2 linked regions of the Homo sapiens genome follow. The protein of the gene in region 1 interacts with the protein of each later gene in a pairwise test. Each region holds a gene or a part of one and is shown in the gene's direction. Other genes may lie near its edges.

Evidence for each region.
Region 2: the proteins of CD244 (region 1) and CD48 interact in binary tests that used the Homo sapiens proteins (3 or more experiments, as listed by UniProt).

The regions. Positions count from the first base shown.
Region 1 is NC_000001.11:160,831,790-160,839,089, reverse strand, and holds part of CD244 (natural killer cell receptor 2B4 isoform 1 precursor), read left to right. Parts: intron 1-40; coding exon 41-151; intron 152-571; coding exon 572-639; intron 640-2,835; coding exon 2,836-2,895; intron 2,896-4,973; coding exon 4,974-5,039; intron 5,040-6,370; coding exon of another isoform or gene 6,371-6,400; exon of another isoform or gene 6,401-6,514; coding exon 6,515-6,571; intron 6,572-7,300. UniProt on the Homo sapiens protein: Heterophilic receptor of the signaling lymphocytic activation molecule (SLAM) family; its ligand is CD48.
Region 2 is NC_000001.11:160,678,215-160,681,091, reverse strand, and holds the end of CD48 (CD48 antigen isoform 1 precursor), read left to right. Parts: exon of another isoform or gene 1-665; intron 666-1,960; coding exon 1,961-2,040; 3' UTR 2,041-2,346; downstream 2,347-2,877. UniProt on the Homo sapiens protein: Glycosylphosphatidylinositol (GPI)-anchored cell surface glycoprotein that interacts via its N-terminal immunoglobulin domain with cell surface receptors including CD244/2B4 or CD2 to regulate immune cell function and activation.

The DNA.
Region 1 (7,300 bases):
GAGCTGACAGCTCAGTTCTCACGCCTTCTGTATTCCTCAGAATTCAGATTTTGGCCGTTTTTGGTGATCATCGTGATTCTAAGCGCACTGTTCCTTGGCACCCTTGCCTGCTTCTGTGTGTGGAGGAGAAAGAGGAAGGAGAAGCAGTCAGGTGAGTGGAAGGTCCTTAGGGTGGTGCTCCTGCCTGAGGCCTTGGATCCTGTGACTTTGTCCTGCGTCCAGTGGGATGTGTCTGGGAGCACAGCATCTCCTTTTCCTCAACGAGCTTTGGTATGTTTGTGTGCGTGGTGGCGGGGGGCAAGCAGGTTGCTAGGCTCTCTCTCCCAGTTCATGCCTTCTGATCCCAATGCGCAGATTTCCCTGTAGACAGCTGGTTTGGGAGGAGGTGTGGGAGGGGCAGTTCGGTTGCTGCCTCTGTGCTCTTTGGGGTTCCTGGGAAGAGCATTAACTTGCCTCCTTTCTAGAACCTTTTTTAAGGTTTGGCCATTTGGGGTAGAGGTGGGACCTGTTAGAAGCAAAAGCCCTTCTGGAGGTTTCTGCAGCTCTGCTCTTTGTTTTCTTCCTCCCTCAGAGACCAGTCCCAAGGAATTTTTGACAATTTACGAAGATGTCAAGGATCTGAAAACCAGGAGAAATCACGTATGTCATCCCGGAGGCTGGGGTCTCTCTCAGCTGGCTTGGAAAATGCTCTTTCAATGATGGTTATTCAGAGCAGAGGGACAAAAAGGACTGAACGACTGTCCTTTTGATGTGACCCTCAGCCCTTCCCCATCTATCTTTTCTCCACCTGCTTCCTAGTTCTGGTGATGGAGGAAAAGAGGAAACAAAAGGAGCAGAGGAGATGAAAGGGAGGCTGAAGGGGCATCTTGGTGCAGAATTGCACCTGCTGAGAAGGGATGGAGCACAACAGAAATCAATGACAGAGGCAGAGTGCTGCTGTGGTATTTGTTGTCTGACCACAAATTCTTTTTCCTAATGAGTCAGGGCTTACATTCATGAGTCCCTTAATGGTGACACAGGCTGGGAAGTGTGACCAGCCAAAGCATAATAGTTTTGTAGCTGGCTCAATAGGCTGCATTCACAGCCTTTTGGAAGAAGAGGCCTGAGTGTGGCTGAGGTACTAGAGAGAGTAACCAGCCTGGCACAAAGCCCACCAGCCTGAGTAGGCTCCTCCAGGAGCCTCTCGCCTGCTCTTCGCAGCAGGCAGGGGCCAACTCTGCCTGTCATCCAAGAATTAGAAGAGGAGGAAATTGCAGAGGGCCTGCAGATGCCCCCACTGCTGTGTCTCGCTTAGGGCAGATGTGGTGACAGGCCCAGGGGAAAAGCTCTGATGGAGCCTACCAAACTGCTGGCAGGAAGTGGGGCAGGGTGGGTGAAGTGGGGCGGAAGTGCCTTCTTTCCACTGCCCCCTGGCGCTTTGCTGTGGAGACCCAGCAGCACGCAGGAAGCACATGTGGTGGGGCTCTTCCGTGCTGGCCACATACGTGAGGCCCTGTGCAGCCTCGCAGAGCAGGCAAGCATCCTCTCCCAGATGCCTCTGGGTTCAGAGGCTGTTAGAGCAGCTCCCCATGCCTGTTTTTTTATTTTTATCTTTATTTATTTATTTATTTTTGCCCCAGCAGTGGCTATGGGAATGTGAAAAATAAAGCAGTGGCTATTGGAATGTGAATAATAAAAGGGGACTTTGTTTCTCTCACTGCTACCAGACTCTGGTACAAATTCCTGAAAGCATGTGAATCTACCCACAGCCAGTGATGCCCGGGTGCTTGCTAAAAATAATCTATTTTTCCAAAAAGAAGATGACTTGAGATTAGGAGACCACAGGAGGAAAAACAACTTAGAGCAAAGGAAACCTCTTTGGGATTCAGGCCTATTAGCTTACTTCTTCCGACTCAAGAGCTCCTCCCTGCCTGGCCTCAGCCCTCTCTGGCCTCTCCCTATTGTCTCAGGGCTCCAATTTGAAGGCCTAAATCTCAAGTTTCATGTGGTCTCACTTTGAGACCCAGCTCTAATCTTTCTAGAAACACTTCACACGGGTCTGGACGGGAGAGAAAAGCAACAAACTCCTGCAGTATTTTAAAACACAAATGAAGTTATTGACATTGTCAGATGCCCATGACTCCCCAGCCTCTAAGGACAGCTGACAGTTCTCTGCTTCTCTTAGCTTCTTCTTGCTTCCAGGAATTTTGCTTGCACCTTGCCTAATGAACCCTGCTGCCTCCACTGGCTCCCAGTAGAACCCAAACTGGCAATATGCTTTCAGTGGCCGGCAGCATGAAATACCTCCACCACCGATTTCCTAAGGGGTAGGAACAAGAAAAGGGAAGCAGGAAGCTCTGCTTCCTGCTTTGGCCCTTGGGTTCAGGGCTGCACCCAGCACTATAGCTGCCCAGGGCGCTGACTTGAGGTCAAGGGCAAGGTGGCCTCAAAGATGATCTAGAGAGGGCTTAACTGTGTTTGGTCTTTGAAATGTTTAAACTTTCTGAATTTCAGTGCTCTGAGGTAAGGCTCAGATAACAGCCCTACTCAGAGCTCTGCAAGGAAGGGTTTCTAAGTTACTAAAGGAAAGAAAGTGACAGCATTCTCTTTGAGCAGGGTTGCTGGAACCCCTCACACCTAGGTGGTTCCTTGCTCCTGATACTAATGGTTCCACTCCAAACTGCTCTTCTTCCTGTCTCTTCCCATCTTGGGAGGATCAATGACTCTCCCCAGTCCTGCCACCTCCCTCCCAGTCTCCTGAAAAGCCCTCTTCTTTGTGCTGTTTTTCCCCACTCAATCTAAATCTGGACAGACCGAACTGTCGCTCATGTTACCCCATCTCCATTTCTTGTGCAGGAGCAGGAGCAGACTTTTCCTGGAGGGGGGAGCACCATCTACTCTATGATCCAGTCCCAGGTACCTCTCCAGTTTCTCTAGTCCATTCCATACCTATCTCTGGGGTTTCCTAATGCCCCCCTGAAACTCACACCATTGAATGGCAGAATAAGATCTTGGTGCTTCTAGAATCCAGAAGATAGCTTGGCTTCAGTTGCATTAACACATTATTTGAAAAGATCCGTGTGATACTAGAGCATCTTAACACAGCTGGGAAGCCTGATGTGGACATTCCTTCTTCTTCCGTGTCTGGCAGAAGGTCTGGCCCAGATAAAGTCTATAGGAGCAGAAACCTGGTTAGGGGACTCAACTTCTGCTTTCTTGCCCTGCTGCTGCTTCTAATACTTGGGGCCCTTGCACTTTTTATCCCTATTCCCTATTATATTCGTTTTCAGGAAAGAATGAATCTGCATTGATCTCTTTTATTTTATTATGACTTAGCAATAATGTCCATTTTCTTTTCTTTTAAAACAATTTTATTGTTTAGAGACAGGGTCTCTTTATTTATTTTTTATTTCCATAGGTTTTTTTGGGAACAGGTGGCATTTGGTGTCATGAGTCAGTTCTTTAGTGGTGATTTGTGAGATTTTTGGTATACCCGTTATGAGACAGGATCTCATTCTGTCTACCAGGCTGAGTGCAATGGTAGAATCATAGCTTACTGAAGCCTTGAATTCCCGGCCTCAAGTGATCCTCCCACCTCAGCCTCCTGGGTAGCTAGGTCTGCAGGTGTGTACCACTGCACCCAGCTGTATTTTCTTACTAAATCTCACATAACAGCCTCATGAAAATAGTTCTAATACTTTAGATGTGGTCTACATTCCATATCACAATGAGGAAACCGAGACTCAGGTCAACTGATATCTCAAGGCTACATAGCTAGGTAGTGGCAGAGCTGAGCCAAAGGGTTTCTGAGTCTCCATTGCACCTCCTCATACTCCACCTCTTATATTCTGGGATTACAGAAATTCACTCATAAACTGGAGAAGCATCCTTTAATACTGATGGCTAAAATGACATTGATAACCCAGGCTGGGACATCTCTCCCAAGGGAAACACTGCCTCCTGGTGGCCAGTAATAAAAGACTTTCTGATAAAAATGGCTTTAAAAAAAAGAAAAAAAAAATTGAGCACCATCTTCAGTTTGGTGGCTGAGCTGTGGGGCAAAGAAAATCTGATTATAAGAGCGGTTGATATCTGCCAGTTCTCTAGTTTCAGCCACATTGAACTCCAATGAGAGGAATTTCTATCAGTGCAAGAAAGAGGTCCCCTCAAACTATGGTGTTGGGTGAGAATGACAGTCCTCCTCTGGAGCATCTTAAAAGGAGAATGTTTACCTGATTTAGAGGACACCTGGTTCCAGTCCAGGGAAGGGAGGCAAGTTGCCAAAGGGAGGCATTGAGGTGTTGAGGAAAGAGCCCTGGAGAGTCTTGGGTTTGAATTCTGCTTCTACTGTGTACGCACTGCCTGACTTGGGCTATTTATCCTTTTGGAGCCTCATTTGTGGCATGGGGCAAATTATGATCATTCTTATTTTATAGGAGTGTTAAAAGAGTTAGAGAAGAGGCCAGGCGCGGTGGCTCATGCCTGTAATCCCAACACTTTGGGAGGCCGAGGCGGGCGGATCACGAGGTCAGGGGTTTGAGACCAGCCTGGCCCACATGGTGAAACCCTGTCTCTAAAAATACAAAAATTAGCTGGGCATGATGGCAGGCACCTGTAATCCCAGCTACTCAGGAGGCTGGGGCAGGAGAATTGCCTGAACCCAGGAGGCAGAGGTTGCGGTGAGCCAAGATCGAGACATTGCACTCCAGCCCAGGCAATAGAGCGAAACTCTTGTCTCAAAAACAAATAAACAAAAAAACAGTTAGAGGAGAATACATGTATAAGATAAATGCTCAACAAATAGAAGCTTTCATTAATGACAGAGCGAGACTAGCACTCAGGTTGTCTGACCTCCTGGCTAGTCCAGGGCTCTTTTCACTAACACTTGAAGCTTCCATCTGGGCAGGGTTGAGGAGGAGAAACGGAAGAGATAACCTTTGTAAGATTGTGCTGGATCTGTGCTTCTGAAATGATTTTATTTCTCTTCTCATTAGTCTTCTGCTCCCACGTCACAAGAACCTGCATATACATTATATTCATTAATTCAGCCTTCCAGGAAGGTGAGCCTCTTCCCGTGGTGGTGGTGGGGTGTTGTTGATGTAGATGTGTATTTTGCATGTGTTTGCAGTGAGAGTGTGTGTGCACATCCTGGCAAGTTGTTCTTTATTGTGTGTATCTGAGTAGCTTCTGTTAAATGACTGTATTTAAATGTCAATGGGCCAATGAGAAATGCCTTACTGGTTCTGTCTGGAGAAAAATAACAGCTTCTAGACTAAGAGAACAGTAGACTAGATGAGTTTTTGGGAGTTTCTGTGGGAGGTAAAGGACAGTCAGAGACAGAAAGGAGGTGCTTTGCACAGAGAGACTACGGGGTACTTAGTAGGTCAGCTGAGGCTATGGTGAGAGATACTGGAGGGGTTTGCAAGGCAGGGCATATTGCCTGGAGCTGGAGGAGTAGACTGGATCTAGAGAGACACAATCTTGACCTTCAGAGACCAGAGAAAGGTCCTGGCCAGTCAGTCACCTGCTGGTGGAGGCCTCTGGACTGAGGCAACCCATCCTTTTGCACTGAAATCCTTCTCCAAGCTGAGTTCGTAGCTCTCTTGTGTACTTGGAAACAGAGTTGGGTATCCTGGTACACATGGTCATTGTTTTTCTCTTGTATGGAAGGGGATGGGAAGAGTGGTGTTCCCAAGGCTGGAGCCACAGTGTGAAGCCAGAAAGCCTTAACATGGTAGTATGGGAATTTGGGAGTCCACACAACTGTGGAAGTCCATGCAGGTCAGGGACCACAGGTTTGAAGGGGTTTAGGACAGATTTTCAGACTTTTCATTCAACCTCCTTCCAATAAGCCATTCAACCTACTTGGATCCCATCGTGAGAGAGATTTGTTTTTAATTATATGCTACAATATAAGGCCATATAGATGTTCACAGGCACCATGTTCACCTGCTTTGGTGTATGTAAACTCTATATGCTACTGAATGTGCCTCTGAATTCTAGTGTCCTTGGGTTGGCAATTATTTATATGCCTGGATTGTTTACATTAAGGGTGTGTGTATGCATGCGTTGAAGAGATACATGGTTTGGGGCAGTATTTGCATTAGGATTGCCTGAGGGATATGTGTGTATGTGTATGTGTATGTGTATGTGTATGTGTGTGTGCTCTGGGAATGTGTGTGTGTATATATATACACAAATATGTATATATATGTGTGTGTGTATATATATATATATATACACACACACACACATATGTGTATGGGTTTTAGGTGTATGTGGGTATGGAACAGCAAATTCTGATTTTGGTTCAGAAATATCATATTATAGGCAAATACTGTATATATTGTGTCTTCCCTGGAGACCATAAACACCATTGTTTTGCTCCTAGGGTGACAGATTCTATTCATTTTCTGGCTGAGAGTGCCTCAGAATTTTTCTGGGCCCTGAGTCTCTTTTGGGACCTCTCACATCACTTAGGAGTGGGAGAGCACTTATCTCGAAGTTAAGTATTCTTTACCTTCTGAATTTCTAGTCTGGATCCAGGAAGAGGAACCACAGCCCTTCCTTCAATAGCACTATCTATGAAGTGGTAAGATTCTGGAACTCCTCAATGGGTTTACTGTCTGTTGCATAGCCCTGAAATCTAGCCATGAAAGGGTACACTTAGGAAAAGATCATTCACACAGTCTCAGAGTTGTAGGGAATTTAGAGATCTTCTAATGCAAGTCTTTGTTTTAGAGATGAAGACACTGAAGCCCAAGGAGAGTGAGGGTCTGACCCAAGATCATATTGCGTGTTTAGATATGATACTTACTGGGCAGCTTGGGTTTTAAATTAGGGCCGTCCCCGAGCTAGTTCCCAGGCTGTGGGCCACAAACTGGACATCTCTCCTTTCCAAGAGTGTTCGGAGGAGGGGTCAGAGAGGGGAAGATAAAGGACTCTAAATGATTTTCTAAAATTAGCAAGTCTTTGGGAGCCATTCCAGGACATAGGTGAGCTTAATCTTCTTCAGGGGTCAACACTGTTCAGAGATGACCACTGAGCCTGGTGGTTGAATTGATTCCCATCAGAGCATTTAGGGACTGGAAAGGAGGGACTCAACATTTCTTGGGGGTTTATTATGGATAAGGTAGCCTGCCAGTGTCTTCACATGGATTATTTTATTTAGTCCTCACAGAATGCTACAAGATAGGTATAATTATACTTTCCATTTATACTCAGAGAAATTAAGGCATGGAGAGCATCCCCCAACCTCCCCCACTACCCATTAGCCTCATACTACACCTGAGCCTCCCCACCTGTGGTCCAATAAAGATGC
Region 2 (2,877 bases), 150 kb from region 1:
CCTAAGGTGTCTGGGAGAGCTGGGAGACGTGGGTTCTGCCACCAGCTCTACCACCACCTCCCAGCCAGCTTACCTCAACTTCGTGGGGGCTCAGTGTTCTCACCTGCAAAGGACGTTTGGGAGAGATCTCTGATACTCCTCTTCCCTCTCCCGCTCTAACAAAGCATAGTCCTAACATCTGAGGCCAGGGTCATCATAGAGTAGACTGAAACATCAGGGTGAGCAGGGAGAAGGAAGGGCAAGTGGGCGAGCAGCTGTCTAGAGGGGCTTCATTAGACAGCCGAAGTCAGCCAAGGAAAGAGGGACCGAGGTCATTAGACCGCCAAAGTCAGCCAGGGAAAGAGGGACTGAGGAGACGGGCCTGAGAGAGGCCGTCGAGGAGGCGTGAGAGCCTGAGCCTCAGGCGAAGCTTCTCCTCCCCAGCCTGATGTTCCTAGATGAACTTAGGAAGCCAGATTCCCCTGTCTCCTGGGAGGATCCACTCATGAGTGTCACACCTGGCTCTAGATCAGGCCTACACTGGTGCTAGCATGGGACAGCTAAGGCCATGGGTTTTAGAGTCAGTCATACCTGGGGTCACTTCTAGGACTGTCACTTACTAGCTAAACAAGTTACTTAGCTTCCCCAAGTCATGTTCTTCCTAAATAAAGGACAAAATAACAGTTCCTATCTCGTGCTAAGGATTCAATGAGACAAGACACGTAACTGCCTATCACAGTGGCTGACAAGTCCTTAGTAAGCGGGAGCTAAATGAGACGCAGTCTCTTAGAGTTTTGGGGACCCTTAATAAACTTGGATCAATATCTCCAGCACTCTGGGAAATACCAGAGTCAGATACCCTCCACAATCCTGAAGTCAGATCCCTGAGCCCTAGCGTACACATTCTTCTAGAATAACTCAGACCTGAGGTGCTCACATTCACCTGTGACCCCTGTCATGCCCAGTCATCAGGGATTCTGGCCTCTGAGAACGTTGCTGTTTTGTGGTCTTCCTGGGCTCTGTCTACCCTCCTTAACTGCACTGATTTCTTTATCTCTACTCCCACATGTGGACTACGGAGACTGTGTATGCTCTTCCTTATTCTTCCTAACTAATTGGCCCTGTCTCTACCAGCCTCTCCTGATATGCCTTGCTCTTCTGCCACCACAGACCCACTGTGACAGTGTGGTATCTGACCATGAGAACACAATTTGGCTGGTGGTTCCAACACCACCCTCATATCAATATCACATCCTGAGATCCAGAAAAAGGAAGACGCACATTCCCTGTCCTCTATAAAATGGGTGTGACTGTTCATCCGAAGAGAGGATAAAAGCAATAATAAATCCATTTTTTTTGGAAGGGTAAACCCATCTGTCACTTTTTAGTCACCGAAATTATCCTAGAAAGCCCCCTCAAACTCCTTTCCCTACTGTATCACTCATTCCTTTTTTTTATTTTCTCCAGCTCAGCCCTTCCCCACCCCAGCATCTAAGCTTTCCTTCCATCCTTTTTCTTTTCCTTTCCTTTTCTGTCTTCCTTTCTCTTCCCTTCTTCTTCCTAGTTGGTGCAGATACTTAGTGGGGTAGAGAAACAAGGAAAGGAAGTGGTCCTTTTCTCTCTAAAGTCAGCTGTGCATTGTATCATGTGGTCATCTGTCTGTACCTGAAGATCTACCCTACCTCGTTGATGTCCAGAGTAGGGGAGCAATGCTTTCCCAGGCCACAGATATGTCGAGGTAACCTTTGAGCACAGGGCCCAGGTAAGCCAGTGATATTTAAGGAATTTCTGCATTTTTTATACTTTATGTTTGGGGAGATTGAGGAAAAGAATGTCCCAGCCAAATAGGATGGGATTCAGGGAAGAAATTAATTTCCCTGCTCTGTGAGCTCCCACACCAGTGTCCAGTACACTTGCCCCTTCTCAATACATTAGTCAAGATAAAGATACCTAAGCATATAGGGTTTTCTTGCTCTTTCAGCCCGGTCCTTTGGAGTAGAATGGATTGCAAGTTGGCTAGTGGTCACGGTGCCCACCATTCTTGGCCTGTTACTTACCTGAGATGAGCTCTTTTAACTCAAGCGAAACTTCAAGGCCAGAAGATCTTGCCTGTTGGTGATCATGCTCCTCACCAGGACAGAGACTGTATAGGCTGACCAGAAGCATGCTGCTGAATTATCAACGAGGATTTTCAAGTTAACTTTTAAATACTGGTTATTATTTAATTTTATATCCCTTTGTTGTTTTCTAGTACACAGAGATATAGAGATACACATGCTTTTTTCCCACCCAAAATTGTGACAACATTATGTGAATGTTTTATTATTTTTTAAAATAAACATTTGATATAATTGTCAATTAACTGAATTCCTGAAGTTGTCCCAAATCTGTCAGACAGTGCCTGCTCCATCAGCTGGGAGAAACTGGAATCTGGAGACACAGAGGGGAGAGCCTGGAGCCACCGGCTCCTGTGTGTCAACACAGCTGAGGAGCCAATTTGTGCTACTTCTGACCCTTATTCCAACATCCATGCTAAGCTTCCTGGGGCTCCAGCTCCCCTGCCAAGCCTTTGCCTCCTTCCCAGTGGCTTGCCTTGCTCTGACCCCTCTGAGGACCACTCTCCTTAAGTCTGCTGCAAACATAGGTTCAGGCTTGCTCTCGCAGAAGGAAGGATGCAGCTCTATCTCATAAGAAGCCTTCCTGCCCCACAAGCCTCGCATAGGGAGCTGAATTCTCTCTCCTCTTTTCCATTGACTGTGTGGGCAAGTCTTCAACTCCTAGTCGTTTCACTGGATCCAAAAAAACCATCAGATCGACACAGTGTTCTCACCAGAGTTGTCCACTATATGCAGGTAGGCGCCCCCAGGCCCACCACTGACATAACACCTGGGATTTTTG